Linked DNA regions of Homo sapiens. The protein of the gene in region 1 interacts with the protein of each later gene in a biochemical or structural test. Each region holds a gene or a part of one and is shown on either strand. Other genes may lie near its edges.

The links.
Region 2: the proteins of EEA1 (region 1) and RAB5B form a complex in vitro, tested with the Homo sapiens proteins (one study listed by BioGRID).
Region 3: the proteins of EEA1 (region 1) and RAB31 form a complex in vitro, tested with the Homo sapiens proteins (2 studies listed by BioGRID).
Region 4: the proteins of EEA1 (region 1) and RAB5C form a complex in vitro, tested with the Homo sapiens proteins (2 studies listed by BioGRID and IntAct, with this or other methods).

What each region holds. Positions count from the first base shown.
Region 1 is NC_000012.12:92,799,783-92,807,512, forward strand, and holds part of EEA1 (early endosome antigen 1), read right to left. Parts: intron 2,953-7,730; coding exon 2,622-2,952; intron 1,920-2,621; coding exon 1,818-1,919; intron 1-1,817. UniProt on the Homo sapiens protein: Binds phospholipid vesicles containing phosphatidylinositol 3-phosphate and participates in endosomal trafficking.
Region 2 is NC_000012.12:55,976,954-55,984,683, reverse strand, and holds part of RAB5B (ras-related protein Rab-5B), read right to left. Parts: intron 5,313-7,730; coding exon of another isoform or gene 5,210-5,312; intron 1-5,209. UniProt on the Homo sapiens protein: The small GTPases Rab are key regulators of intracellular membrane trafficking, from the formation of transport vesicles to their fusion with membranes.
Region 3 is NC_000018.10:9,857,692-9,863,172, reverse strand, and holds the end of RAB31 (ras-related protein Rab-31), read right to left. Parts: intron 3,946-5,481; coding exon 3,848-3,945; 3' UTR 622-3,847; downstream 1-621. UniProt on the Homo sapiens protein: The small GTPases Rab are key regulators of intracellular membrane trafficking, from the formation of transport vesicles to their fusion with membranes.
Region 4 is NC_000017.11:42,151,389-42,160,081, forward strand, and holds the start of RAB5C (ras-related protein Rab-5C), read right to left. Parts: upstream 3,602-8,693; 5' UTR 3,505-3,601; intron 3,322-3,504; exon of another isoform or gene 3,012-3,321; intron 1-3,011. Other genes in the region: voltage-gated delayed rectifier potassium channel KCNH4, read right to left, coding at 8,652-8,693. UniProt on the Homo sapiens protein: The small GTPases Rab are key regulators of intracellular membrane trafficking, from the formation of transport vesicles to their fusion with membranes.

The DNA.
Region 1 (7,730 bases):
CATCTCAAAAAATAATAATTAAAAAAAAAAATTCTCATATGCCACTAAGCCTATTGGCCACAGTTGTCGCAAAGAATAGCTCTATAGTAACTATGATAAAAACAAAATCACTTTTGACAAAATACATTTAGTATCTGTCTGATGACATTAAATTACACTGCACAGGCCAGGTGCTCACGCCTATAATCCCAGCACTTTTGGAGGCCAACGCGGGCAGGTTACTTGAGGTCAGGAGCTCGAGACCAGCCTGGGCAACATGGTGAAGCCTGTCTCTACTAAAAATACAAAAATTAGCCAGGCGTGGTGGCAGGCACCTGTAATCCCAGCTACTTGGGAGGCTGAGGCAGGAGAATCGCTTGAACTTAGGAGGTGGAGGTTGCAGTGAGCCGAGATTGCGCCACTGCACTCCAGCTTGGCTGACAGAGCGAGACTCTGTTTAAAATAATAATAATAATACACTGTAGAATAGTTACCTCATTTAGAGATCTGGGGCATATTTTACTACTACCTTGTTTGTACAATCCACTAGGATATGTTTCTGTTCAAATTCAGACATCATACAGAAGTCACACTGAAGTTCCTCTGTCACCAAGGTAAACCACTATTATCTCCCACCCTCCAACCAAAGTCATGTTTTCATGTTCTATGCATATTTTACTAAGAACCTAGCATTACATTCAAGCATTTGACCATATCCAAAGTTACTTTTGAAAAAATGTTAGTGTTATATATAGACGTCTCAGCTTATCTCCACAATGAATAGCAAAATATTTTTATGCAAAACAGGAGTCAGAGAGTATGACAATAAGGATGATATATGATATAACCAATGATAAAATAATAACTAGCATGAGCATTTACTTTATTATAGTCAGTGTACTGAGTACTTTAAAGATATTAACCCATTTATTTCTCACAATAACTCTATCACATAGATTCATATAGACTCTATCATATAGAAACTAGAGCACAGAGATTAAGTATTTGGTCTAAAAGATGGCGAAATGGCATAGCTAATAAATGGCATAGCCAGGATATAAATTTGAACAATCTTGATTCAGAACTTGGGCATGAAGCAATTATAATTTTGCTACTTACATGGCTGGCATCTACAACACAAGTCTGCTTTCAATCAACAACTAGAATACAATCACATCAAATACTTGTCAGTACTATGTCTTGCTCCTTTATCAAATCAGATTTTCTAGAAAGTTGCATACCTAGACTCTAGCAGCTAGCAGGTATGGCTTCAGAGAGCAACAACCATATATTATACCCATGTGTTTACTCATTTGCTTGTCTGTTTTTGCTGGAAACAATAGAAGCATTAACCACAGAAAAATATTTTGGTTGTTCTACAACCATTATCAAGTATACATTAGTATGTGTATAAATGTCCATGAAATAAAGAGCCATAAAGAGTCCATGAAATAAAGGTCATTTCTATAGAAAGCCTTTTAAGATTTTTTTTTCAACCATAAAAATGGTCCTTAACCCTGTAGTTAGCTGACTCAATTTTCTACCTTTATTAATAATATTTCTTTATTTGGGTCTTTGATTATAAACTAGCTTAAGTCTTTTTAATAGTAGGCAAAATACAAATAACAATTTTAAACTATATACATGATTTGTTACATTTCAGAGAAATGAACCTATGACCTAAATATCAGTATGAAAATGCTTATTTTTCTTAAAACTATAAAAAAAAATTATCTGTGGAAATGCCCCCAAGAACAAACATGCTTTATATATTTATTTGAAAATATAAAGACCTTACTATACTTTACAGATTTTATGTTACAAAAAAAAAATCTTACCTCCTTCTCTTTTTCAAGTGACTTTTTCAGTTCCTTCTGTTCCTTAAGTGTGTTTTCCATCTGCACTTGAAGTTGATGCTTTAATTCTTTGCAAGTTTTTTCCTTAAAAAAAATGAAAACTATATTACATAAAAAATATTTGTAATAACCTTAAGAAGTTTAGTTTATAACCTTAGTAAGATACACACGAAGAAATAAACTAAAATTATGATGAGCTAAGATGAGACAGGATCATCCATTTCAATGATAAAACTAGGAAAATATTACAGAAGTAATGGAGGAGGGACAACAAAACACTAAGGGTTTTGATCATCAACCAAGTCACAATGGCATATTTTAAACATTAAAATGATATCTTAGAACACTTTAGAAATCACATTTTATGTCACACAATTCATTATAATTAACTTGCCACACTACTTTTATAGCAATGGGCTTCAAGAAAATGGAAGCAAGAAAACTTAGGAAACAATAAATTAAGAAATGATCACAATAGGAAAAGTGTACAGATAGAAAATGTTTTCTCTAAACAGAAAAGAACATAACAACACACATGAGAAAGACTAATATTCAACTGAAAATATTCTTGGCCTTTAGAAAATGGCGTGCACACAGGTGCATACACACACATTATTATCTTGGGCTTCTTCTCAGGTTAAGCAATCCCAATTAATTTCCTCATAAGAACTACTTTAAACTATTTAAATGTGGAAAGAAAAGCAAACTGTGAATTAAGCAGAAAAATCAGTACATTTTAAATAAAATAATCACTTCTACCTAAGAAAGTAAATGTAAACTACTAACCAAGTCTAATATAGCGGCTTTTCCTTTCTGATTCTCCTTTTCAAATTCACTTTTAGAGTTTTTCAAAGAATCAGAAACTTTTGATAGTTTGTCCTTTACTGTAGAAAGCTCTGTCATTAAAGCTTCTTTCTCCATTTTCACTTTTTGTAGTTCTGTTACTGTTGTTTGAATTCTGTTATTCAATTCCTCATGCTGAATCTTTGTTTCTTGACTTAAAGTTTCAAAATCTTGTTTCAGGATTTTTTTTTCTTCCTCTTGCTTGGTAAGCTTTTGCTTGATACTTTCAAGGGCTTCAGATTTTTTCTGTAGATCCAATCTTGTACTGGATACTCTAAATATTTAAAAAACAATCTTTTTAAATAACACATAATTTACCACTTCTAATTTACCATTCAAAATTAATCACAAACAATTACTGAGTTCTGAAACTTTTTTGTATAGTTCACAAGTAAAAATAATTTAATTTCATAAAATCGCACCACTGAAAAATACTTTAGAACATCTCATTTGATCATTTAACAGATGTAGATTATTTTTCCCAAGTCAAATAAGTTAGTAGTGAAGACAAAACTATCTAAGCTTCCTGACTTAATCCATTTTTGTCCGCCACAACTAATCCCGAGGAAAAAAACTATGTATCACAGACCCTCTACTCTATAACAGCCAGAAACGTTTTTCCATAAAGAATCTATTCATTATGTTAGTTCTCCAACACAGAGAGAACTTTGTCTCTTTCCTTGAAAACATGAAACACATTATGTGTGACAGTTCTTAGGCTTCAAAATATTTATGGTTAACCCAGAAAAAAATCAAAGAAAGAAAATTAAAAAAATATTTTATTTACAATATAGAGGGAAGACAAATGATTTACTTTAACCCTAGAAGCTAGCAGATTATACAAAGGATTTGTTATCATTTGTTCCTTAATATAGTTCTCTTATACATGAATGAAAAAAGCAACAAGAATGAAGAAATAAAGTTATAGCTTTAGAAAGCTATAGACTTTTATTGTTTTCATAAAAGGAACTATGCAAATTATACAGCAAAACCCTCAATACACTATAAATAACAGCCATTTTAAAAGTCAAAACCAGATGCTAAGTAACAGTATTTCTAGAATGCACACTAGTTCCAATGTAATCAGAATAAATTTGTAACCAATAAAAATAAGTCAATATGTTAAAGGGAGGTTGTTAAAAGATGTACTAATAAAGTATTTGAAATTGTGTATTAATACAATATCAAAACTGTATTTATACCTCGAAATCTAATTTTTTAGTTCTAGAAACACACTTTTACCTCCTAAAAAATAGCTGGAAAAGATGTTAAAGCTTAATAGGTTCACAAGATATTATTCCTCCTTGATTTTTAAAGGTCCAAATGGAAAAGTCATTATACTAATATTATTTTACATTTTAATATAGTTAAAATCCCTGTTAAGCAACCTTAGAATTAAGACTTGATATATTTATTTACTATGCTGCTTAACTTTTTCAAAATTAATTACAAAATCATAAGACTATGTGAATCAAAGAAAGCAAAACAGAAATAGAGGCTTACATAGTCACTGTGACACTTCTTGTTTTTTTTTAAGTAACTAAGGGAAGAAATAAACAAGTCCACAATCATAGTTGGAAACTATAATATCTCTTTTTAGAAACTGATAGAACAACCAGAGGAACAAATTGGCAAGAATATAGACAATAAGAACAGCACTGTAATTGTTATTTATAGCCACTCCACCCAATAACACAGAGTACATATATGTGCACATGGAAAATTAATTATGATAAGCCATATGCTGGGCCTTAAATAAGACTTACTTTCAAAAGTTTGAATTTTACCAAGAATGTTCTCTGACCACAATAAAATTAAATTAGAAATTAGGGCCAGGCACGGTGGCTCACGCCTGTAATCCCAGCACTGTGGGAGGCCAAGGTGGGCGGATCACAAGGTCAGGAGATCGAGACCAACCTGGCTAACACAGTGAAACCCCCATCTCTACTAAAAACACAAAAATTAGCCAGGCATGATGGCAGGCACCTGTAATCCCAGCTACTCGTGAGGCTGAAGCAGGAGAATCGCTTGAACCCAGGTGGCAGAGGTTGCAGTGAGCCGAGATCACGCCACTGCATTCCAGCCTGGGCGACAGAGTGAGACTCTGTCTCAAAAAAAAAAAAAAAAAAAAAAATCAGTAACAATAATATACCTAGGAAAGCCTCAATATTTGGAAAGTAAACATACTTATAACCTACACATTAAAGAAGGAATCACAAAGGAAATCAGAAAATATATTAAACTGCAGAGGAATGAAAATACATTGTAAGATGGGAGGGAAACATTGGGTGTATAAATGTAAGGGGGCCCTCAAAAAGGGGAGCCCTGTATCCTGTTATTTGGGCTAAGCCCTGGGCTCATGGGTGGGGTTTAGTCAAAGTCTCTATATGTTTATCTGATATAAGAGCAGAAGGGACCCCAGCCCTCCTTGCCTAGGTAGTACTCCAGAAATGTGAGAAGACCTCAGAGGAGAAATGTATGTACAAAGTACATAGGCAAGAAAGATCTTAAAGGTTTTCCTACCCCAATAGGATGTGGGAGCCCTGTAAGTGAATTCTGAACCATGAGATTAGAACATAGAATGAAAATGGGTCCACTTCCATTGGGCCCATTGGAAACAGAAAGAACCATTGGGCCTGCAGAGTTTTTGAGGAACAGAACAAAAGCCATCTCGGAGATGATCTTCATGGACTGATGCCTGCATTCTAGAGATAATGATGAACCATTTGGTTGGTAATGTAATGGATCAGATATGCTCCTCAAATACCTAGGCACTGGAAACTACCGTGAGGAGGAATGCCACCTGAGGCACAAGATGCAATTCTATAACCTCCGATTCAAAGCATCAGGACCCAATTTACTAGATATGAAAATGAGAATATTTTCACCATCATATCCCCAAACAAGGATGAAAACCATGAAGGTGTGAAACAACTTAATCATCAACTCTGATGGGTTTTATTTCACCTTTCTGAAGAGGACTTTTCTCAGGTTCTTAGTCTCTACCTTTACTACTGGAACAGTCAAGAGCCCTCATCCCCTTGACACAAGTCAAGTCCATCAACTCAGTCAGAGCAGGTGATTTGATGTTTAAAGACAAAATGTACTCAAATGTAACCAGTTATATGAAGACATTCAAATGAATTGGGTGGAACTGATTTTTATCCATCAAAATAATGGTGAGTGATGTGTTCATTGAAGATCTCATCATGGCAGGACCCAAATTCAGCATCAACATCAAGGATAAGCTGGGCAAGAGACTAATTCTACCTTGGGAGTGAACGAATGATGCTGCAGCTAAGCACTTCTATGGCTATATATGTTCAGAAGCACATGCCCATTCTGCCACCAGAGACATTTGAAATTTCATATACTAATAAATCGTATAGGTCCCAATAACTTCTAAACCAATCCACCCTTATACTCAGAGCTGCCATGAATCCATTGAGCACTTTAGTGCAAATTAGAAAAAAGATACCCTCTTTCAAGATAATTTATTCCATCTGTGGCAAAACTGTCATAATACACTGATTTTATTAGAATAAGGCTACATACTACCATCTGCAGAAATCTTACATCTAGCATTGACAAGTGAAAAGTGGGTAACTGAAAAAAAGAAACAGATACTACAAAATGTAGACAGACACAGTGACGCTTTCACATTTAAAAGCTATTAAAAAAAAGCAAAGTAATAAGGTCTAAAGATGGAAACAATAAAGAGGAGAAATAAATAAGATAGAAAACTGACAAAATAAATCAAAAGCTTTTTACAATAGTCTGATAAAACTGATAAATCTCTAATTAAATTGATTTTTAAAAAGACAAATTAGCATGATTAAGAATAAAGGAGGAACACTACTACAGATCCTAACAGACCTTAAAAGTGTAATATTATGAACAACTGCCAATAAACTTGAAGTTTAGAGGAAATGAACCCATTTCTGAAAGACACAATGTACCAAAACTGACTCAAGAAAAAAAAATCAGGAAATTAGAATAGCTCTATGTCTATTAAATGAATTGAACCCCAAATGAAACAATCCAGAAAGAGAACTCTAAGCCTAGCCAGTTCACTAGTGAATTCCATCAAACTTTTAAGAAACAAATAATATCCATCTCATACAAACTATTTCAGAAAGGAGGAGGAAATACTTCTCAATTCCTTTTTAAGGCCAGTATAACTCTGATATCAAAACCTGACAATGATATTAAAAGAATACTACAGACCAATACCCCTCATAAATATATGAAACATTTTTAACAAAGTATTATCAAATCAAAAACAGCAATATACAAAAAGGTAATACAGCATGGTCAAGTTAATTTATCCCAGGAAAGCAAGGTTGGTTTAACAGTAAATCAATCAATGTAACTGACCATATTAACAGAATAAAACAGAAAATCCATATGATCACATCAACAGATACAGGAAAAAAGGTGATAAAATTCAATCCAAGCACGGTAATTTTTCTTTTTTAATAATTTTTTTTTTTTTGAGACGGAGTCTCGCTCTGTCGCCCAGGTTGGAGTGCAGTGGCACTGGAGTGCAGTGGCATGATCTCAGCTCACTGAAACTTCTGCCTCCCAGGTTCAAGCAATTCTCATGCCTCAGCCTCCCGAGTAGCTGAGATTACAGGCGTGTGCCACCATCCCCTGCTGATTTTTGTATTTTTAGTGGAGACGAGGTTTCACCCTGTTGGCCAGGCTGGTCTCGAACTCCTGACTTCAGATGATCTGCCTGCCTCAGCCTCCCAAATTTCTAGGATTACAGGCATGAGCCACAAGGCCGATAATTTTTTTTTTATATATAACTAGGTATCAAAGGTAATGTCTTCAATCTGATAAAGGGAATCTCAGAAAAACCTACAGCTAACCTCAAACTTAATGATGAAACATTTAATATTTCCTGCCTAAGATTAGAAATAATGCAAAGATATTTGCCAATACTGTTTACATTCACAATGTTACTGGATGTCCCAGCCAGCAAGAAAAAAGATATAAAAGGCCTATAGGTTGGAAAGGAAGAAGTAAATTTGTCTCTATTCACAGATA
Region 2 (7,730 bases), about 37 Mb from region 1:
ACATGGTGAAACCCCGTCTCCACTAAAAATACAAAAAAAATTAGCTGGGTGTGGTGGTGCATACCTGTAATCCCAGCTACTCCAGAGGCTGAGGCAGGAGAATCGCTTAAACCCAGAAGGTAGAGGGTGCACTGAGCTGATGCGCCACTGTGCTCCAGCCTGGGTGACAGAGCGAGACTCCGTCTCAAAAAATAAAAGGCGGGCACAGTGGCTCACGCCTGTAATCCCAGCACTTTGGGAGGCAAAGGCAGGCAGATCAGGAGGTCAGGAGTTTGAGACAAGCCTGGCAAACATGGTGAAACCCCGTCTCTACTAAAAATACAAAAATTAGCTGGGCGTGGTGGCGCGTGCCTGTAGTCCCAGCTACTTGGGAGGTTGAGGCAGGTGAACTGCTTGAACTTGTGAGGTGGAGGTTGCAGTGAGCTGAGATTGCACCACTGTACTCCAGCCTGGCGACAGAGCAACAGCGAGACTCAGTCTAAAAAAAAAAAAAAAAAATTAGCCGGGTGTGGTTGGTGGCCGGCATTTGTAATCCTACTCGGGAGGCTGAGGCAGAACTGCTTAAACCCGGGAGGCGGAGGTTGCAGTGAGCCGAGATCGTGCCACCACACTCCAGCCTGGGTAACAGAGCAAGACTCCACCTGGGGTGGGTAGGGGGGAGATCGGGGGCAGGGAAGAAGCCACAATATGAAAGTGGTACAGAGAAAGAAAAAGAGAAAAAACAGGCCTGGCAGAGCGGCCCATGCCTGTAATCCCAGGGGTTTGGGAGATAAAAGGGGAAGCCTTGCTTGAGGTGAGGAGTTTGAGACCAGCCTAGGCAACATAGCGAGACTGAGTCTCTAGAAAACATTTAAAAAAATTAGCTGGGCATGGTGGTATGTGCCTGTAATCCCAGCTACTCCAGAGGCTGTGGTGGGAGAATCACTGGAGCCCAGGAGTTGAAGGTTGTAGTGAGCTGATTACACCACTGCACTCCAGCCTGGGCGACAGAACAAGACGCTATCTCTGGAAAAAAAAAAAAAAAAAAAAGGAGACATAACTAAAGGGTAAAGAGGAAGTTAGCAAAAGAATGAGAGGTGAGAACTCAAGGTCCCAAAGTAGACTAGATTAATACAGAGGAACATGACAATTACTTTGATTCTACTGGGTATTCTGTAGTCCCCTTGGTCAGTCAGTCTTAAAAATTCAGATATACATGTACCATTTTATGATTAAGTTTTCAATGGCCTATGACGAAAGGATCAAAATAAAGATGATACAGCAAATTTTTCATAAAGCTAAATTTATTCAATTTAAATGAGTATCTTTAATTATAACATTTTAAAATTTATTTTCCATTTTTAGAGAGAGTCTCACTCTGGTGTTTGAGAGGTCAGGAGTTTGAGACCAGCCTGGCCAACATATAGTGAAACCCCGTCTCTACTAAAAAATACAAAAATTAGCTGGGTGTAGCGCCACATGCCTGTAGTCCCAGCTACTTGGGAAGCTGAGGCAGGAGAATCGCTTGAACCCAGAGGGCGGAGGTTGCAGTGAGCTGAGATTATGCCACTGTACTCCAGCCTGGGCAACAGAGCAAGACTCCGTCTCTCAAAATAAAAAATAAATAAAAGAGAAGACAGGTGACACCATAATAAAAAAAAAAGGACAGATGATAAGCTGATCAAGTTTCCTTCAGGTGACATATATATGCTATACTCTCAAGAAACAATAGAAAAAGTTACTGGTTTTTTCAACTTACTCCCTTACATTTTTATGTATTTCAAAGCATGTGATCCAAGGGGTAGAATATTAAGCCTCAATGTTACTACTCTACAATAAAGGAAAATGTGGGAGTTAGAATGGACTGAATTCTCATGGCTAAACATATCACTTGAGCTCTGGGGGAGTGTAAAGACAGGAAACAATTGCAGACACGCTTGAGTTGCAAAGTCTCTGTCACTAACTCTCAGAGATGGGAAGTCAAGCCAGAGCCCAGATGTGGTCAGCAAGCTTTCTTGCTACTAAGCAACCTTGGATTCTCAGAGATCAGTAACTACTGACTTAGAAAAGACTACCTCGTACCCTAATATGTAGCCTTAAGAGTATGTTCTGGCTGCACATCATGGTTCACGCCTGTAATACCAGCATTTTGGGAGGCCAAGGCAGGAGGATCACTTGAGCCCAGGAGTTTGAGACCAGCCTGGGCAACATAGTGAGATCCCACCTCTGAAAAAGAAAGAATATGTCCTGCCTTCCTCCCTGTTCACAGCAATTGTTGAGCCACCTCTAAGCTTTGATCTTTAATCTTATCATGTTTATAAGGGTATCATTTAAAAAATATAATAGCTAGACTCTCAAAAATTCTGTGGTACAGAAATGAAATAATACATATAAGATTCAATTATTTATTTTCTATTCTCATTTTTTCCCACAAAAATACTAATTTTTTTTTTTTTTTTTGGTAAACCAGTCAAGTGGTATGATGATTATTACCTTCAAACCCGAGACAAAAAAAAGGGAGATGGGGCAGGTTTCTCTTCCTTTCAACCTTTTTAGCTCAGAAGAGAAGAAATCAGATTTAACTTCCCTTAGAAGTGCAGCTCTGCCGGGTGCAGTGACTCATGCCTGAAATCCCAGCACTTTGGGAGGCTGAGGTGGGCGGATCACCTAAGGTCAGGAATTCAACACCAGTCTGGCGAACATGGTGAAACCCCGTCTCTATTAAAAACACAAAAATTAGCCAGGTGTGGTGGCTGACACCTGTAATCTCAGCTACTTGGGAGGCTGAAGCAGGAGAATTGCTTGAACCTGGGAGGCAGAGGCTGCAGTGGGTCGAGACTTTGCCACTGCACTCCAGCCTGGGTGACAGAGCAAGACTCCATCAAAAAAAAAAAAAAAGAAGTACGGCTCTACAAGAATGACTTATAAAATGACCCATTAACTAGGGAGGATTGAGGCCTGACCATGGGTTAGCCCACTAGATGCAGGAGACCCATGGAGGATGTTCTTTAATGTGGGCAACTCTCCCAAGCAGTGCAGCAAAGTAGGCATAACAGTAAAAGTGTCTTAGCAGTCCCAGCTAGAGTAAGACTCCATTCCTCAAGCCCCCTTCCACTTGTTAGCTTTGAGTCCCTAAACCAAATACATATGAAGTCTCCAGAAGTCTATCACCTATCAACAGAGACAGAGTTCTCGGTATATATAGCCACTGGAGTCCAACCCAGTACCAGTTGTCAGCCTTAAGGTCAGTCAGGCAGATCAGAGCCAGTCTAGAGGTCATTTAGTCCAGTCTCTATATTTTATAGGTGAGGAAACCGAGACACATACAATTAGTCAATTTGGGCTAGGCGTGGTGGCTTACACCTGTAATCCTAGCACTTTGGGAGGGCGAGATGGGCAGATCACCTGAGGTCAGGAGTTTGAGACCAGCCTGGCCAACGTGGTGAAAACCTGTCTCTACTAAAAATACAAAAATTAGCTGGGTGTGGTGGTGCGTGCCTGTAATCCCAGCTACTCAGGAGGCTGAGGCACGAGAATTGCTTGAACCTGGGAGGCAGAGGTAGCAGTGAGCCGAGATCACACGACTGCACTCCAGCCTGGACAACAGAGCGATTCCGTCTCAAAAATAAATAAATAGCCCCATCCCTTCCCCGGCTCCCCCGGTGTCCGCCATGGCCAAAGCCTACGACCACCTCTTCAAGTTGCTGCTGATCGGGGACTCGGGGGTGGGCAAGACTTGTCTGATCATTCGCTTTGCAGAGGACAACTTCAACAACACTTACATCTCCACCATCGGAATTGATTTCAAGATCCGCACTGTGGATATAGAGGGGAAGAAGATCAAACTACAAGTCTGGGACACAGCTGGCCAAGAGCGGTTCAAGACAATAACTACTGCCTACTACCGTGGAGCCATGGGCATTATCCTAGCATACGACATCACGGATGAGAAATCTTTCGAGAATATTCAGAACTGGATGAAAAGCATCATGGAGAATGCCTCAGCTGGGGTGGAGCACCTCTTGCTAGGGAACAAATGTGACATGGAGGCCAAGAGGAAGGTGCAGAAGGAGCAGGCCGATAAGTTGGCTCGAGAGCATGGAATCCGATTTTTCGAAACTAGTGCTAAATCCAGTATGAATGTGGATGAGGCTTTTAGTTCCCTGGCCCGGGACATCTTGCTCAAGTCAGGAGGCCGGAGATCAGGAAACGGCAACAAGCCTCCCAGTACTGACCTGAAAACTTGTGACATAAAGAACACCAACAAGTGCTCCCTGAGCTGAGGACCCTTTCTTGCCTCCCCACCCCGGAAGCTGAACCTGAGGGAGACAACAGCAGAGGGAGTGAGCAGGGGAGAAATAGCAGAGGGGCTTGGAGGGACACATAGGTAGATGGTAAAGAGAATGAGGAGAAAAAGGAGAAAAGGGAAAAGCAGAAAGGAAAAGAAGGAAAAGAGAGGAAGGGAGAAGGGAGAGGAATGAATTGAGGAAGTGAACGAAGGCAAGGAGGTAGGAAGAGAGGGAGGAGGAAAGGAAGGAGAGATGCCTCAGGCTTCAGACCTTACCTGGGTTTTCAGGGCAAACATAAATGTAAATACACTGATTTATTCTGTTACTAGATCAGGTTTTAGGGTCCTGCAAAGGGCTAGCTCGGCACTACACTAGGGAATTTGCTCCTGTTCTGTCACTTGTCATGGTCTTTCTTGGTATTAAAGGCCACCATTTGCACAAAAAATAAATAAATAAATAAAAAATAAAATAAAATTAGTCAACTTGTCAAGTGTTACCATACAGCCAACTGCTAAGCAGTAAATGTAGGACTCCTAGTCAGGTACTCCTGCCTCTTATACCACTATACTTCTTAAGGAAGCAGGAAATGCTGAACTCTAAAGAGAACACCAGGACAGGATCGAGAGCTTAGACTGGATAGAGTTCCTGCCTCTATTCAGTTTAGGTAAGTACTTGCTTTGGGACTAAAAACAAATTAAGAAGACCCAGGCCTTCCTTGGCAACTGGGATGCAGTCCCATATCTTTCTGACAGAAGAATTAATTCATCACTACTCTTTTCTAGAAGGTCTATGACCAAACCCTGCCAGGACAGTTGAAATAGAAGCAATTCAATGAGAGGCAATAGGAAAACAAGCGGTAACTTTTGCAGAATTTGGTGGGCCCTGCGATTAATGTGAGAGTTTTACTAAGTAGGGAAGATAGAGCAGAAACCAGTAAATACCTTCATCTCCCTCTCCAACTCTGTTTAAACCCAAGTCACCAAAATCTTGAAATGAGAGTTCTACCACTTGGCTCAGCTCTTCATTTTGTTGATCCAGTGTTACCTAATGAGTCATTGGATTAAATGAGATTCCTTCCACATCTCGCACCCTTTCCCTTATATTTCTCCAAGAGGCAAAAAGCATACTTACCTCTTATCAGTATGGTAGTACAAACTCCCTATTATTGACCTAGGTAAGATTGGAATGCCCGTCCCTACTTGTCTGCCTAGCAAAATTCTATATATCTCATAAGACCAAGCTCAAATGTTACTTCAGTGAAATTACATAATCACCCTCTCCCCCACAGAATTAATCATTCTCTAGAGGCCCGTAGGGTCCCACAGTATTAAGACTGTATTTCTGGCCAGGTGTGGTGGCGCACACCTGTAATCCCAGCACTTTGAGAGGCCAAGGCAGATGGATCACTGGAGGTTAGGAGTTCGAGACCAGCCTGGCCAATATGGTGAAACCCCGTCTCTACTAAAAATACAAAAATTAGCTGGGCATGTTGGCACAGGCTTGTAATCCCAGTTACCCAGGAGGCTGAGACATGAGAATTGCTTGAGCCCGGGAGGCGGAGGTTGCAGTGAGCACAGATTGCACCACTGTACTCCAGCCTGGACAGCAAAGCAAGAATCCGTCTCAAAAAAAAAAAAAAAAGACTGTATTTCTATAATAGTATGTATCACATTATCACAGTATATAAATTGTGTCTGTCTGCTCTGCTAAACTATGAACTTCTTTAAAAGTGGGAGTTTATCTTAAAATCTTCAGAGCACAGCATGCTGCCTGATCCCTAGTAGGTGCTCATTAAATGCTCCCTAAATTAAGGCTAAGTAATTCTACTTCTCTCCCCCAATCAACTCCTCCCTTTCTGTACCATCTGGACAGATCTTACTCAATTCCATTTGGGTTCTTTTTTTTTTTTCCTGAGACGGAGTCTTGCTCAGTCGCCCAGGCTGGAGTGCAGTGACGCGATCTCGGCTCACTGCAAGCTCTGCCTCCCAGGTTCACGCCATTCTCCTGCTTCAGCCTCCCGAGAAGCTGGGGGACTACAGGCGCCCACCACCACGCCCAGCTAATTTTTTGTATTTTGTTTAGTAGAGACGGGGTTTCACCGTGTTAGCCAGGATGGTCTCAATCTCCTGACCTCGTGATCCACCCGCCTCAGCCTCCCAAAGTGCTGGGATTACAGGCGCATGCCACCGCACACGGCCCCATTTGGGAATATTTTTAATAGGCCTCAGAATCAATTCTCTCCCTGGCTCCTCTGTGATCTCCCTTGGATGGAGGGCCCCCTTGGGATCTTGCCCACAAGGTACTATTGCAACTCGCATGGGCTAACTGCTTTTCCTGTCACCCGTTACTATGCCTCAGATGGCCTAATCACACCCAATATGTGGCCCTCCCACCCAAACACTGAGGCAACTATAGCTAAAAACAAAGTTCGCTGAATTTTCAGTTGATGTTGAACGGTCAAAAGCTTTGGGCCACTATCTATTAATTCCTGACTTGAGAAACACAAGTTTAAAAAAAGGAGCCATAACACCACAGAACCAGGAGACACTCTGAAAAGGTACCCACTGTCCCTGAACAGAAGCTACAACCTTGCCCAGAAATGTACACATACTTTGTTCACCTGGGTAGCTCCTTATTCAGTTCAGTTACTGTTGAGTCAATGGCTAAATCTTTCCCAAAACGGAAGTGGGAGTATACCATGTAGGGTTTTATGGTATCCTTCCTCCAAGAGGGCTGCTGCATTTCCTTATTATAAGTTCATTGTCTCACACTTTGGTTACCTTCCAATCTGAAATGCTTTAGGATTAGGGAGCAAACTATACGCTTGCTTCTTCTACCCTATGCCTCCTTCTCAGAAGTAAAATTCATACCAATAAGCAATATTTGCTCCCAGGTAAAGTAAGAGTTAGAAGATATGAGGTATGTTATGCAGTAGGGATTGTCCAGGAAAAAAATTTTAAAAGATATGAGGTATGACTTGAAGGGCAATGGGAAAGCTCTCTTCTCCAAATATATTTTTGCAACTCCAGGTCTATGTATGAAATTCCTTATTGATAATTCTACTCCTAAACTCTCTTAGGATGCAAAAAACTGTTGGAAAAATTAGATAGGATTAAAACACACACACACACACGCACACACGGCCAGGCGCGGTGGCTCACTCCTGTAATCCCAGTGCTTTGGGAGGCTGAGGCACGTGGATCACCTGAGGTCAGGAGTTAGAGTCCAGCCTGGCCAACATGGTCAAATCCCGTCTCTACTAATAATACAAAAATTAGCTGGTCGTGGTGGTGCACGCCTGTAATCCCAGCTACTCTGGAGGCTGAGGCAGGAGAATCGCGTGAACCTAGGAGGCAGACGTTGCAGTGAGCCGAGATCATGCCACTGCACTCCAGCCTGGGTGACAAAAGTGAAACTCCGTCTAAAAACACACACACATACTCCTACACAACTGTCTCTAGG
Region 3 (5,481 bases), on another chromosome or scaffold:
ATTTTTCTATCATGAAGTAAATACAAATGACAGATAGTTACATCTCCTTCGTTCTCCCTGATCCTGTTCACTTCTCTCCCTCCCCTTAGGTAAGGACCATCATGAAGTTCCTGTTTTACTTTCTAATTCTTTTAGCACACAAACACATTCATAAACAATGTCTGAATTATTGTTCTGTGTGAGTTGACATGCATTGGTACTTATTCAGCTTGCTGTATTCACTCAGCCAGGGCCACAGGTTGGTTGCCCAGGCGATGCACTGCACAGTTCCTGAGGGTTGCATTCATACAGGACACTATGATGGCTCCCTTGGGGATGTGCAGGATGGCAGCCTGCACTCCAAACTCCGTTTTTGAGATCAATGTTGATGCATGACAGTGAGTTCATTTTCATTACCTGATAGCTTTCATCATGTGGCTGGGCCGCATTTCATTTTTCCATTTCCTTAGTGGAAGGCAACATTTTGCTACTGCAAACAGTGTTTCAGGGAACATCCTTATGCATGTCTGCATATGTGCAGGTGCACACATTTCCCTGGGGAATCATCATTCTCTGTTTGAGTTAACTGTGATTTTTAAAAAATGATTCTACTGAACAGTGTAATAAGAAAAAGACAAACGGTAAAACTGAAAATATTTATTAGTATGAATCAGTGTGTGTTAAACCAAAAATAACAGATACAATTAGGCATTGTTGATGGAAATGCTTTACTACAGAATAGAATACATGGCGGAAAGGTCCTAGCTGACTGCAGCGGTGTCTTGTATGTGCAAGAACTGGGTCCAGCCCAGATGGAAGCTCTTTACAAAAACACGAGAAAAAGGAGCAGTTTGCACAACAGGGCAGCACCACTGGACTACAGGGTCTGGTTTCAACAATGATGTTAAAACAGTAAGCTAGATACCCAGTCGGTCTGAATACAGTTCAGAGCTCTTTAATTTATAAGCTAGCTCACCATTCAACTTGCCATGAGCATTGCAGAACAGTGAGAACTGGAGCCCACACAAAAAAGCTCAGTTTCAGCCACCACATGCCAAAGTCCTTGACTGTAGAGGAAATATTTCAGTCATCCAAACCTTTCTCAGAAAATGAACTCAGTTTCCATTGGGGCACAGCCCTTATTGTTAGCTAAAAGTTAGTTTCGGGCCTTCAACCTTTTAGTCTGCAAGGTAACGTCATATTCAACTGCCTAATGTGCCGTTTTTAACCATAAAATGGCAAGTCAATTATGTGGCAATGTAAAATGCTTGCACAACTCCACTGTCATTCTCAGAGATTTCCATTGGGAAGCCATGCCTACTTTATATTAACACATGGCTAGGGGCCAAACTCAGCCAGTGAAATGGATTACATATCGGAGTAACACATATACAATCATATTTACACAGATACACACTCATGCCACACACGAAAGAAAAAAAAAAGGGAGAAGGAACAAATTTTGGAAAACGATGCCAAGGATGCTACACTACATGAAACTACATGACTTTTTTTAGCAACAGTAATTTCCAGGCCTTTACATAATATTACATGGTTATGGTTCAATTATTAGACAGCCAGGAAGTAATCCCGAGCCAAAACAAAGGAAGGTTGTAAAGCCTCATTGTAGACAAGGCCTGAGCATCCACAGAGAAGATACAATGTTTATGTGAATCCTGGTGTGCCCAAGTGTGATCTACTCTCTTCACTGACTACTCTGAGTGCTGATGAGAATATATATATTATCCTCTGACTGGCTTGAATAGCTAAGACAATACAGAAAGGTAACAGAGTGGTTTCACACCCTCATGTGCTTCTGAAATAAAACCATGGGCTCATTAGTGGGTAGCTCACTATCTGTGGCAAAGACTAGACATTTTATGCAAAACACAACCACTGCAAACCCAGCCCAAAGATGCAAAACTCTCAGCTAGGATACTTACCCCTCAGCTAAAAAACCTGAACAGCTATCTAGAGATAAACCCAGGTTCTCAGGGAAAACTGGATGAGGAAAGGTTACAAAATAAGCCTGCAACTCAGCTGGAAAGAGGTCACTTCAATTTTCAACTCATTTTTTTTTTTTTTTTTTTACCTTTGGCAAGGGGTATGATCATTTCTTGGCCTGCAAGCACAATCATGCCAACCATTAATGTGGACAATGTGGAAAAAACCCTAAAAATCCCTGCAAAGCCCCTGTCAAGACATCCAAATGCCGCTTGCTAACAGTTTTTGAGGTACCTATTTGGGAGAGCCAAGTGGAACTCTTGAAGCAAAATAAGTGTTTCCCAGCCTTCACATCCTAACACTGTCAATGAACTCTCTTAAGTTGAGTGAAGTGGAAGCGTGCTGAGTTACTGAAGTGCCAGGTCTTTAATCCAATCAGCTCACAACCTCTTTCCTGACTTTTGCGATATAGATTGTCAATAAAGGTTAGCCGTCCCTTGAATGCTCATGGCAAAGAAGGTACCAGCTGGCCCTGGCTAGCACACAGCATGATTAACCATTTCTGAGCACCAATCCTAATGTCCTTTAAGAATCACCCCCTAATATAAGCCCTGGCAGGAAATCAGCTGCTTCTTGATCCCAACTTTTTATGAAAGTTAGAATGGTAATAGAATTTGAATTTTCAGTAGGAATCAGTTCTCTTCCTTTCCATGCTTTTTCTTCCTTGACTTCCTTTGGATTCAAACATCTTTAATTGAGCAGACAGGGAATCTGAAAAGGAAGGTTTTCATCGGAGCCCATTCTCAGTTCCTTGGCATTCTAGGGTCAGACCTCTGGTTAGCCCTAAAGCCCTTCTCCTCAAGCTAGAAACATAAAAATACTTTTTCTGATTTTGTAGTTTTTTGGGGTCTAGAATTTTAAAGTGCTGACACTTCCTCTGGCTGGCTTTCCTGTAACCTATTATTAATTGTTATTATTAGAAGTTTGCCCAATGATTTAGATTCAAACATTAAATTTAATTCTAGTTAATTCTCTTCCCCTAGATATGACACCAAGAGATATTCTCTTAGTAAAATAATACTATGTGCGTTAAACTTCTCTAAGAGAGGACGAATGTATTCCTGCGGAGGAGATGCATGTCAGGTGGTCTCTTGAATAATGTGTATGTCCTGCATCTCTCACCACTTACATAGTGATTACTTAAATCACTCTTTCAAACTAGGCCACCCAATCCCAAAATTATATGCAGTAATTTAGTTTGATTTGGTTTGTTTGGGTATATATGACCATAACTTAGAAAAATTGTTCACCAATTAAAAGTGGTGTAGACAACAGTTTCTAATACACTTTTCCTGGCTTCTGTAATAACTCAAGTCTCAGTCTGAGTGACGGTCCATTGACACTTCTCTGATTTCCTCCAAAAAGTAATAAATAAAGGCTTACTTCCAAAGCTAGCTAAAAACTAACCTCCTGAACTAAATTTGCCTTTCAGTGAAGGTTGGTTAGGTAACAAAGGCAATGACACTGAAGTAGTTACTGGAATTTGGATAGGTAGCACAGGAAATCCAAGTGGAATGCCACTTTAGAATCCCATACACATAATAAGGCAGTAAGACTTTTGTACACATCCAACAATTTTTAAAGGTTTTTTTTTTTTTTTAGCAAAAATGCAACTACATCCCCTCCATGTGCATTTCATACACTAAAGGCCATTTTGTGGTGGTGTGGTGGGTTTTCCCAGGGTTTTCTAAAATCCTTTTCAGGTACATTTCCTGCCCCGCCCCCTGCAGGTCTTCCAGGATGCAAAGCCAGTGTGCTCACTCTTCTCAAAGTGAGGTGCCAGGCCACCGAGCGTAGGGTCCTTCAGCAGTGCACAGGATGTGGGCTCTGGCTTCTTCAAGTACCGTGGACCACGGCCCTTGGGTCAACAGCACCGGCGGCTGGCTTGCATGGTTGGCTTCTCAACTTTGATTGTTCCATTGTTTCCATTTTCATGGGGGTCCAAGGGTGGGATCTGGCGGCCTGCAACAAAAAGGAGGCCAAGGGTGAGTTCCCTTTCCTACAGCCAACACTGCACACACAGATTTTCACCCTGCTTCAACACTCCTGCTTTGGGCTGTGCACAAAATAAAGGTGTTCCTGGAGGGGCTCCTTTCTCCTTCCTTCCTTTCCTTCCTCCCTTCCTTCTTCCTATCCTTTCCTCCCTAGTTCTGCTGCATGAAGCCCAATTCATGGGCTTAGGAAGTTCAGGTAAGGAACAGTCCAGCAGTTTCCTGGTGGTGTGGAATTCCTGGGCTAGGAAGATCCACTCCTGGGGGCAGCTCCCATCCAGCCTCCGCTCATCAGCGCGCTCTTCCCTCTCCCTGCCTTCCCAGAGACCCATCCTGGTTTAATGAGCGGCTTTCATGGTACCGTGACTTCAACAGTAACAGTGAGTACTCATCCATCTTTTCTGCTTCTCAAAATAGAAATAGATTTGAATTGTAATCTTCCTAGCAGTGTCATTTATTAACACTTAGCTCATCATCCCTCATCCTGCCAATGCATTTAGATCATTAACTGGAAAGCCCTACAGAGACACTTTTCATAGGAAACAGTATTTTAATGTCATCCACAAGTAATCTTATTTTTACTTAACTTAATTTTAAAAATTATCAGAAAGTCTCTATAAATAAACACAAAATCAAAATTAAACAGGCAATGGAAGGGGCCAGGGAGATGACAGCTAAAGGGTATGGGTTTCTTTATGAGGTGATTTTTCTAAAATTGACTGTGCTGATGGCTGCACAGATCTGTGAATATACCAACACCACCGAATTGTACATTTGAAATGGGTGAAATGTATGGTATGTGAATTTTATCTCAATAAAGTTGTTTTCTGAAAAAAGGCAATGGAATCTGGAAATAACCTTAGTAGCTCCCAGTTTTCAAAGATTTTCACAAACACCATCCTCACCTCGCCCTGTGAATTTGATGTAATGGTCGTTATTATCACCATTTCACTGTGACTCGAGAACTTGAGCACTTTGCTGAAGGTCCCATCAATAACAGGCAGTAGTACAGCTGGTGCTTTGATTATAATCTACACCTTGACTTCCTGATGGGTCGCAAGGCCTGTGCTCTTCCCACTGAACCACATTAGGTCTCTTTGCTACTTTTCTATGCCCCTTGAAAAAGGCATGAAACACTAGCTCTAAAATGAGGATTTTGTTTTATTCTTGAGACAGGGTCTCACTCTGTCACCCAGGCTGAAGTGCAGTGGCTTGATCATGGCTTACTGCAACCTCGAATTCCGGGGCTAAAGGGATCCTCCCACCTCAACCTTCTGAGTAGCTGGGACTATAGGTGTGCGCCACCATGCCCCGATAAATTTTTTTTTTTTTTTGTAGAGATAGGGTCTTGCTATGTTGCCCAGGCTGGTCTCAAACTCCTGGCCTCAAGTGATCCTCTCACCTTGGTCTCCTAAAGTGCTGAGATTACAGGTATGAGCCACCAGGCCTAGGCTAAAATGAATATCTATATCTATCTATCTATCTATCTATCTATCTATCTATCTAT
Region 4 (8,693 bases), on another chromosome or scaffold:
ATCGCACCACTGCACTCCAGCCTAGGCGACAGAGCGAGACTCCGACTCAAAAAAAAAAAAAGAAGTAGAAGGTCTAAGAAGTACTTGCTTGGTGGGGCTGAATTTAAATGTATGATCTTGCTCTGTTTCCATGTAAATTCTAGTGACAGGAGCTCCTGGTGGCAAGCCACATTCTTCCCACTTGCAAGCAGCAGGCAGCACCACAGGAGAAACAGAGGACTAACCAGAGGCCCGCTCTGTTGCTTCCCCCTTAACCCTGCCCAGTGGGACCCCTGAGTTTACTCACTTTAACTTTCATTTTCTAGCCATTAGGACTTTCAGGTTCCCAGAAAAATTAATGACATGTAGATGTCAGCAAACTCTCAGGCCCTGAAGAGTACTGACTTGGGACTCCTAACTGTTTTGGTCCTCAGAGGCAGAGGTGAAAGGGGTCAAGAGAGAAGACAGGAGGTCGGGTAGACGCTGGGGAAGACAAAAAAACAGAGGAGCGCTAGTGATGAGGAGGGCTAAAGAGTTAAGAGTCTGCCCTTGTGCCGTGGCGCACTCAGTCTGCATGTTCATTCATTTAACGAACAAACCAGGCCGAAGAAGGGCCCACTGTTAGATCAGGTCACATCTGACCCCAAATCCAAGCCCCAGCTCTACTACTTTCTAAATGTATGATCGATCTTAGGCAAACTACTTAAGTTCCTTCTGCATCCCTTCTAAAGCAGGGACACTTGCCTTATCTTACTCAAAAAAAAAAAAGTAATAATAAAAATTAAAAACAAAGTGGGGAAACAAGCCCCACTATTTCCCAAGGCACCTATGAGGAATATGTATGAAAATAATTTTGCAACCTTAAAATGATTTTTAAAAATTAGTGTTACTGTCCCTCTACAGTTTAACAGCCCTCTAATTGTGAGAGGCAAGAGGGCAGGGGAGGAACAGCATCAGAAAGGAGGGGTTCTGTCGCACACGGAGCCATCGCTCTCTCTGCCAGGCAGAGTCAGACCTCTGCTTGGACTCTATAATTTCTAGGTGCCAGAAGTGGCTGCATAACGACCCAAAGCACTGGGGCCTGCCTCGTCTCTCTAAATGGCAGAGCTTCCCCTTCAAAGTCGTTTCAGGTTGGGTGCAGTGGCTCATGCCTGTAATCCTAGCACTTTGGGAGGCTGAGGTGGGTGGATCATCTGAGGTCAGGAGTTCGAGACCAGCCTGGCCAACATGGTGAGACCCCATCTCTACTAAAAATACAAAAATTAGCTGGGCGTGGTGGTGCATGGCTGTAATCTCAGCTACTCAGGAGGCTGAGGCAGGAGAATCCCTTGATCTCGGGAGGCAGAGGCTGCAGTGAGCCAAGATTGTGCCACTGCACTCCAGCCTGGGTGACAAAACAAGGCTCTGTCTCCAAAAAAAAAAAAAAAGTCGTTTCAGAGTCAGAGCTGGGAGAGCATGTCCAGACAAAGAAAAGAAGGTCTCCTCAGAAGGCTGGTCGGCCTCATCCCAGCACTCCTGAAGAGTGACAAACTGCGGTCTACTCCTGAAGACCTAAGTCTGGTCAGAGACCAATGGCCAGTGAGCAGTCAGGCCTCTCTGGCCCTGCCCCTCAGATGCCCAGGCTGACCAGATCAGAGAAACTAGGTTGGTTGAAGAAGTCTCCAATGAACCCCAAAGGAACCCACACAGATACAGAGCCTGTGATCCAGCTGTTGACCCTAATAAGGAAGGCTTCTTCTGTTGTCCGATAAAAAGTGAAATAAGTAGGCCGGGCACGGTGGTTCACACCTGTAATCTCAGCACTTTGGGAGGCTGAGGCGGGTGGATCACCTGAAGTCAGGAGTTCGAGACCAGCCCGGCCAACATGGCGAAACCCCATCTCTACTAAAAATACAAAAATTAGCCGGGTGTGGTGGCAGGCGCCTGTTAATCCCAGCTACTCAGGAGGCTGAGGCAAGAGAACTGCTTGAACCCAGGAGGCAGAGGTTGCAGTGAGCCAAGATCACGCCACTGCACTCCAGCCTGGGCGACAGAGCAAGACTCCATCTCAAAAACAAACAAACAAAAAAGTGAAGAAAGTACATCCTAGCTCTACTCAAAAGACTGTAGGAATCAGATACTAGCCACTGTCCAGAAGCCCTCAAACACACCTCAAGGCCAAAAAACACAGCACTTTTAAGTGGCAAGCGAGGGTGGTAAAGGTAGCCCAGAACACTGAAGAGCTACAGAAGTTCCCACAAACTGCACGGCTTTCCGTCCCTTCCTCCACTGTAGATAGCAAGGGTCAGTCATGGCCTCAGAGCCAGGCTACTCCTCGTTAAGGTACAGTCTCCGGCCTGTACTTTGGCCACATAACAAAGCTTGGTCTGAGACAGCAGCTATTTCACACACCTAAGCCCCAAGCAACAGACAAGGATCAGTCAATATGGTTGAGGGAACCTGCACTTTCTGGCATGTATCGGAATTCCTCAGGCTACAATTAAAAATCCAGAACTGCCATTGTGATCTTGACTTAGTCCTCAGTAATAAGTCCAAGCCCTGAAGGGATTGCAGACAGACCCTGGCGTGGTGTGGACCTGTTGCTCAGGGAGGTGTATGTGTGTGTGTTTGGGAGTGGGAAAGAGATGGCCCTTCAATTCCAGACTCCTCATTTTGGGTCTTATTCTCCTCCCTATAGACACACGGACAGCAGTCCCAAGAAAAGCAGTCCCTTTGAGGCGGCTGGGAAACCACTCACGTGCTCTGGGAGGACAGAGCTGAGCCTGGAGCAAGGGGGGAGGGGAAAGAAGATAATGAATGGGCACATCCACCCTGATCTGTGATCTGTAGCTAGGATTGAGCAAACCTCAGCTAAATTCTTCAGAGGCAGAAAGAGAGAGACACTCAAAGAACAACATAACTAGAGGACAGGGCTGGGAGACAGAAGGGGCAAAACAGGAAAACAGCTCATTTCTAGTAAGTGACTTTAAACTCAGCTGAGGTCCTGGTTGGTTCTCTGGCTTGAGGAAAGAGAGGAAGTAAGGAGTTGCGGGAGCGCACACACACTTCTGTGCGTGTGGAACGGTCTCACCCAGACGACCCCCCTCCCCCAAAGGAAATCGAGATATTCCTCTAGGGCTAGAGGGGACAACTGGTTTTGTGGGACAGGAGGAAGGAAAACGGCGACAGACAGCACTCCCTGTCACTTCTAAAAGAGAAGAGGGACAGGTTCCTTCACACCTAGCAAAGATCCTCCGATTCTGGAAGCAGGGGGAGCGGAACTTAGGGTACCTCTCTCCCACAACTAGAATGGACAGGCCAGAGGACAGTCATAGCGGTTTCCTTAAGGCTCACCAAAGGCAGGTAAGCTAAGGAAAGAAGCTCCCCACCTCCTATGGCCCGACGCCTGGGGAGCCCCTCAAGAGGGGGCTACGGGTCGGGGGAGGGGTCAGTATCCCCCTAAACTGGGGCTGGGCGGGAGGAAGGGCTGCCCTGGAGATGCTTCAACGCAGGCGAGACACCAGGTCCTGGGACAAGCATACTCACGGCGGCTCCGGGGCGGCGGCGTTACTTGGGGCCGGGGCTCGGACGGGATCCGCTTCTCTCCCCGCCGGCGGTGTCCCAGGCTCCGGCCTCCACTTCCGCCTTTCAGCCGCTCCGGATCCGGATCTCCACCTCCGCCCCGCCCCTCAATACTCCCAGGTGATTGACAGTGCGGAGACCAATGGGAGGCACTCTTGGCCGACCTACCCAGCGGCGCCGGTAGGAACGCGGGAGTGGCGGTAGGGAGCGCGCGAGGGATCGCGGGACTTGTAGTTCGCAGCGCTGGGAGGAGTCAGTGGCTGCCTGGGACTTGGGCTTAGGGTGGAGCCGGCTGACTGCGAGGCGGAGCCCGGCCGGAACTTTTTTTTTTTTTTTGAGACGGAGTCTTACTCTGTCGCCCAGGCTGGAGTGCAGTGGTGCGATCTCACTGCAACCTCTGCCTCCCGGGTTCAAGCGATTCTCCTGCCTCAGCCTCCCGAGGAGCTGGATTATAGGCACGCACCACCACGCCCGACTAATTTTTGTATTTTTTAGTAGAGACGGGGGTTTCGCCATGTTGGCCAGGCTGGTCTCGAACTCCTGACCTCAGGTGATCCGCCCTCTTCGGCCTCTCAAAGTGCTGAGATTACAGGCCTGAGCCACCGCGCCCAGCCTACGGCCGGGAACTTTTTAAGGCTAACCCTGCCATCCGCGTCACCGCCGGTTCCGGACGCCCCGAGGGAAGGCGGGTGGTGGAGCGTTGGAAGAAGGCAGAGGATTGTGTGTGCAGAATTGGGAAAGAAAAAACGTGGTGCGAATGAATATGCACGCGAGGCCTCAGTCCTGTGAACTCGCTGATCTGGAGAAGCCCTTGTCTGCACTGTCCGCCCGATTGCCAGGGGCGTCTGTGATTGGGAAGGTGAGGAAAGCGCTGCAGGAAGAGTTCTCTGCAGGATGCTGGGTGAGATCAAAGGGAGAGCTTCTGCCACCACCTCCTACTTGGTGTGTGCGGGGGCCGGCACAAAGACCATCTCTGCCTCTGCCTTCCCCTGCTCCTAGCCAGGGTCAGCTCTTCTCTCTGACGCGGAATACAGAGCTGGACAACCTCTGCCTCGGCCCTCTCCATCCGTAAATAAAGACTAGAACCACCCCCACTCTGCACTCTCCCCCTCTATGGATCAGGAATATTTGTTTTTTCTGCTCCTCTCAATATGGACTGGGCCCGCTCCTGATTCCTCCCACCCTTACCTCTCAACACAAACCAGTACCTCCTCTTCTTTTGCATCTCATCCTCAAGGGACACTACTGAAAACCTGTGTGGAATCAAAGCTCACCGGAGACAGCTGTGGCCATTGTGCCTATAACGCCAACACCAGGCATATCCTGGAGCCTCAGCTGGAGAATTTACCTGTCTTGGACAACCTGCCACAAAACTGTGCCCACATCTAGTTCCATCTGGTCATCAGGGCGTCTCTCTTTCTTACACCCATAACACACAATCCCCACTTCCGCGCCAGTGTTCATGAGAAGTGAAAAGGAAGAGGGAAGAGAGGGCTTGTTGGGAGGACAGAGGGGATGGGGCAGAGTGGGATTCCTAGCAGGTTCTGGCTGGTGACAAGCTCTTCCCCCAGCCCCCTTGCCATACCCAGTTCTGGAACAGTTCCTTATACAGGAGGGATGGGTAGTCCCCTAGGCCCACCTTTCCAAGGCTGGAGGTGGGCCAAAGCCAGGACTCTGTCCTTCCCACATACTGTGTGCATACATGGCTGTGACTGGGGTGCAGGGGAGAGAAGGGGGTATAATAGGCCCATAGTGACTAATTAAGTTTCTTCCTCAACCCTGGGGCCCCTGGTGGTGTGAATGTGGTGCCAAGTAGATTGGCTGGTGCCTCTGCCCTTCCTAGAGATAGCAACTGGGCCCTGGGGTACAACGAAGGTGAGGGTGGGGAGTGATTGCTGTGTTGGCTCCTCCAAAGCCCTGGGGCTCTCAGAGTAACCCCCAGAAACACCCAGAGCCAATAACTACAAAAATAAAGAGTTTATTTCCTATCCAAAAGTGAGCCCAGGGTGTTGGGTGGTAGAGGAGAGCTGGAGACCTGGGCGAGTTTTGGAGCAGTCCAGGCCCTGAGTGAGACCATGTTGTAATGGGGGAGAACAGGCTTGGCAGCGGTCTGGGGTCAGGGAAAGGATAGGGAGTGCTGTTGGGATTTTTGAGTTGCTAGCAGCAGAAGAGACCACCTTGAGAGACAGCCTGCAGAGAGACAGAAACAGAGATGTTGACAGACCCACGCCTAGGAGTAGAAGCAGACATTACTGGGCCCAAAAAGCACCTGTTGGGCACAGGGACCTGGGAACACACTGTTAGGTAAGGCAGAGGTTGCAAACTCAACCCCTGGGCTCCACCCCGGACATTCCAAATTGGATGAGGCCCAGGAATCTGCTTTTTATTTTTTTATTTTTTTGAGCCTCCGCGCCTGGCAGAATCTGCGTTTTAATAGGATCTCAGGTAGTTCTGATGGACACTCAAGTTTTGAGAACTCAAATACCCACAGAGACCAAACAAAAATTTCAAACAAGGGAAGCTAGCTGGGTGTCGGGAGATGATCAAGAAACGTGGTGACTGCGAAGTAGAGTGCAGAGCAGATCCCATCTAAAGAGGACAGTGGCCACCCAGCCCAGCTGATTGCCAGTTATTGCCAGATGGAATGTTGGCCCACGGTAGCCTGATGTCCTGAGGTTTTTTTTGTTTTGTTTTGTTTGAGCAGGGTCTCACTCTGTCACCCAGGCTGGAGTGCAGTGGTGTGATCACTGCTCACTGCAGCCTCAACCTCCTGGGCTCAAGAGATCCTCCCACCTCAGCTTCCAGAGTAGCTGGGACCACAGGCACACACCACTACACCTGGCTAATTTTTTAATTTGTATAGAGATGGGTGGGGGGGGTGTCTTGCTATGTTGCCCAGGCTGGTCTTGAACTCCTGGATTCAAGTCATCCTTCCACCTCAGCTTCTGGAGTAGCTGGAACCACAGGCACTCACCACTACACCTGGCTAATTTTTATTTATTTATTTATTTATTTTTGAGGTGGAGTTTCACTCTTATTGCCCAGACTTGAGAGCAATGGCACGATCTCGGCTCACTGCACCCTCCACCTCCCAGGTTCAAGCGATTCTCCTGCCTCAGCCTCCCGCGAAGCTGGGATTACAGGCATGCACCACCATCCCAGCTAATGTTTGTATTTTTAGTAGAGATGGGGTTTCTCCATGTTGGTCAGGCTGGTCTCGAACTCCAGACCTCAGGTAATCCACCTGCCTCGGCCTCCCAAAGTGCTGGGATTACAGGCGTGAGCCACCATGCCCAGCCTACACCTGGCTAATTTGAAAAATATTTTGAAAAATATTTTTCAAAATAATCCCAGCACTTTGGGAGGCCGAGGCAGGTGGATCATGAGGTCAGGAGATCGAGACCATCCTGGCTAACATGGTGAAACCCCGTCTCTACTAAAGATACAAAAAAATTAGCTGGGCGTGGTGGCAGGCGCCGGTAGTCCCAGCTACTCGGGAGGCTGAGGCAGGAGAATGGCGTGAACCCGGGAGGCGGAGTTTGCAGTGAGCCGAGATTGCACCACTGCACTCCAGCCTGGGCGACAGAGTGAGACTCCGTCTCAAAAAAAAAAAAATATTTTTATAGGCTGGGTGCGGTGGCTGACACTTGTAATCCCAGCACTTTGGGAGGACGAGGCAGGCGGATCAGGAGGTCAGGAGATTGAGACCATCCTGGCTAACATGGTGAAACCCTGTCTCCACTAAAAATACAAAAAATTAGCCGGGTGTGGTGGCGGGCGCCTGTAGTCCCAGCTACTTGGGAGCCTGAGGCAGGAGAATGGCATGAACCCAGGAGGCGGAGCTTGTAGTGAGCTGAGATTGCACCACTGCATTCCAGCCTGGGTGACAGAGTGAGACTCCGTCTATAAAAAAATATATATATATATATTTTTTTTATAGAGATAGGGTCTCGCTATGTTGCTCAGGTGGATCTCAAACTCATGGACTCAAGCGATCCTCCCACCTCGGCCTCCCAAAGGGCTGGGATTATAGGCATGAACCACTGTGCCCAGTGCTACATTTTGTAGAGAAATTGGAATATCTGTATTCCTATATAACCTGTCTCTTTTTTTTATTTTGAGACAGAGTCTCACTGTCGCCCAGGCTGGAGTGCAGTGGTGCGATCTTGGCTCACTGCAACCTCCGCCTCCCGGATTCAAGCGATTCTCCTGCCTCAGCCTCCCGAGTAGCTGCGATTACAGGCATGTGCCACCATGCCCGGCTAATTTTGTATTTTTAGTAGAGATGAGGTTTCTGCATGTTGGTCAGGCTGGTCTCGAACTCCTGACCTCAGGTGATCCGCCTGCCTTGGCCTCCCAAAGTGCTAGGATTACAGGCGTGAGCCACCGCACCTGGCCCTGTCTCATTTTTAATATTGGAACTAACTCATATTTTGAAAATAATGCTGCGCGAGCCGAAGAGTACATATCTGGAGCCATCCGTTTGTTTCCTGTGTGGGCTGTGGGATGAGGTGAGCCTCTCCAGCCTGGGCTCATGGTGGGCGGCCTAAGAAATCATGGGTTGCTCAAATTCCAAGCAACATCTCAAACCTACCCCTCTCTAGGTAACATTGCTCTTAAGGTCTTCAGCAGAGACCCAGGGGCTGAGACAGAAGACCTCACAATATCACTAAGCTATCTTCAGGCAAAATCCTACAACCTGTCTCTCTTGCTATAGACGCTAAGATCCTGTCTGGTCTTCCCTTCATGTCCTAGGCTGGAGCTGGGTCCCTTGCCCATCCCCTCTGCTCCCCCATCTCTACCTGCCTCCAGGTCCTGGGGAGAAAGTAGGATCTCATCTGCCCAGCCCAATGGGCACTGCGGTTCATCTCATGCCTGCTGGGTTCCACAGCCCTCAGGTGGCTCCCCTCACAGAGGGGGAGGTTGGGGAAGGCTTGGAAAAGGGAATAGCGTCAGAGGTAACCACGCTTCATTAAAAAGTCCAGAAATCCAGAGCCAACCAGGCCAGCTGGTGGCTGCTGACCCCAAGGCAGGAAGCCAAGGGGCCCAGGTCCTCCCTGAGTGGTGAGCGGCAGCGCCCACCCCAGACAGGCCTGGGCCCTGGGCCAGGGTCAGTGGAACGTGTCTGACCTGGACTGGAAACTGTGCCTCAA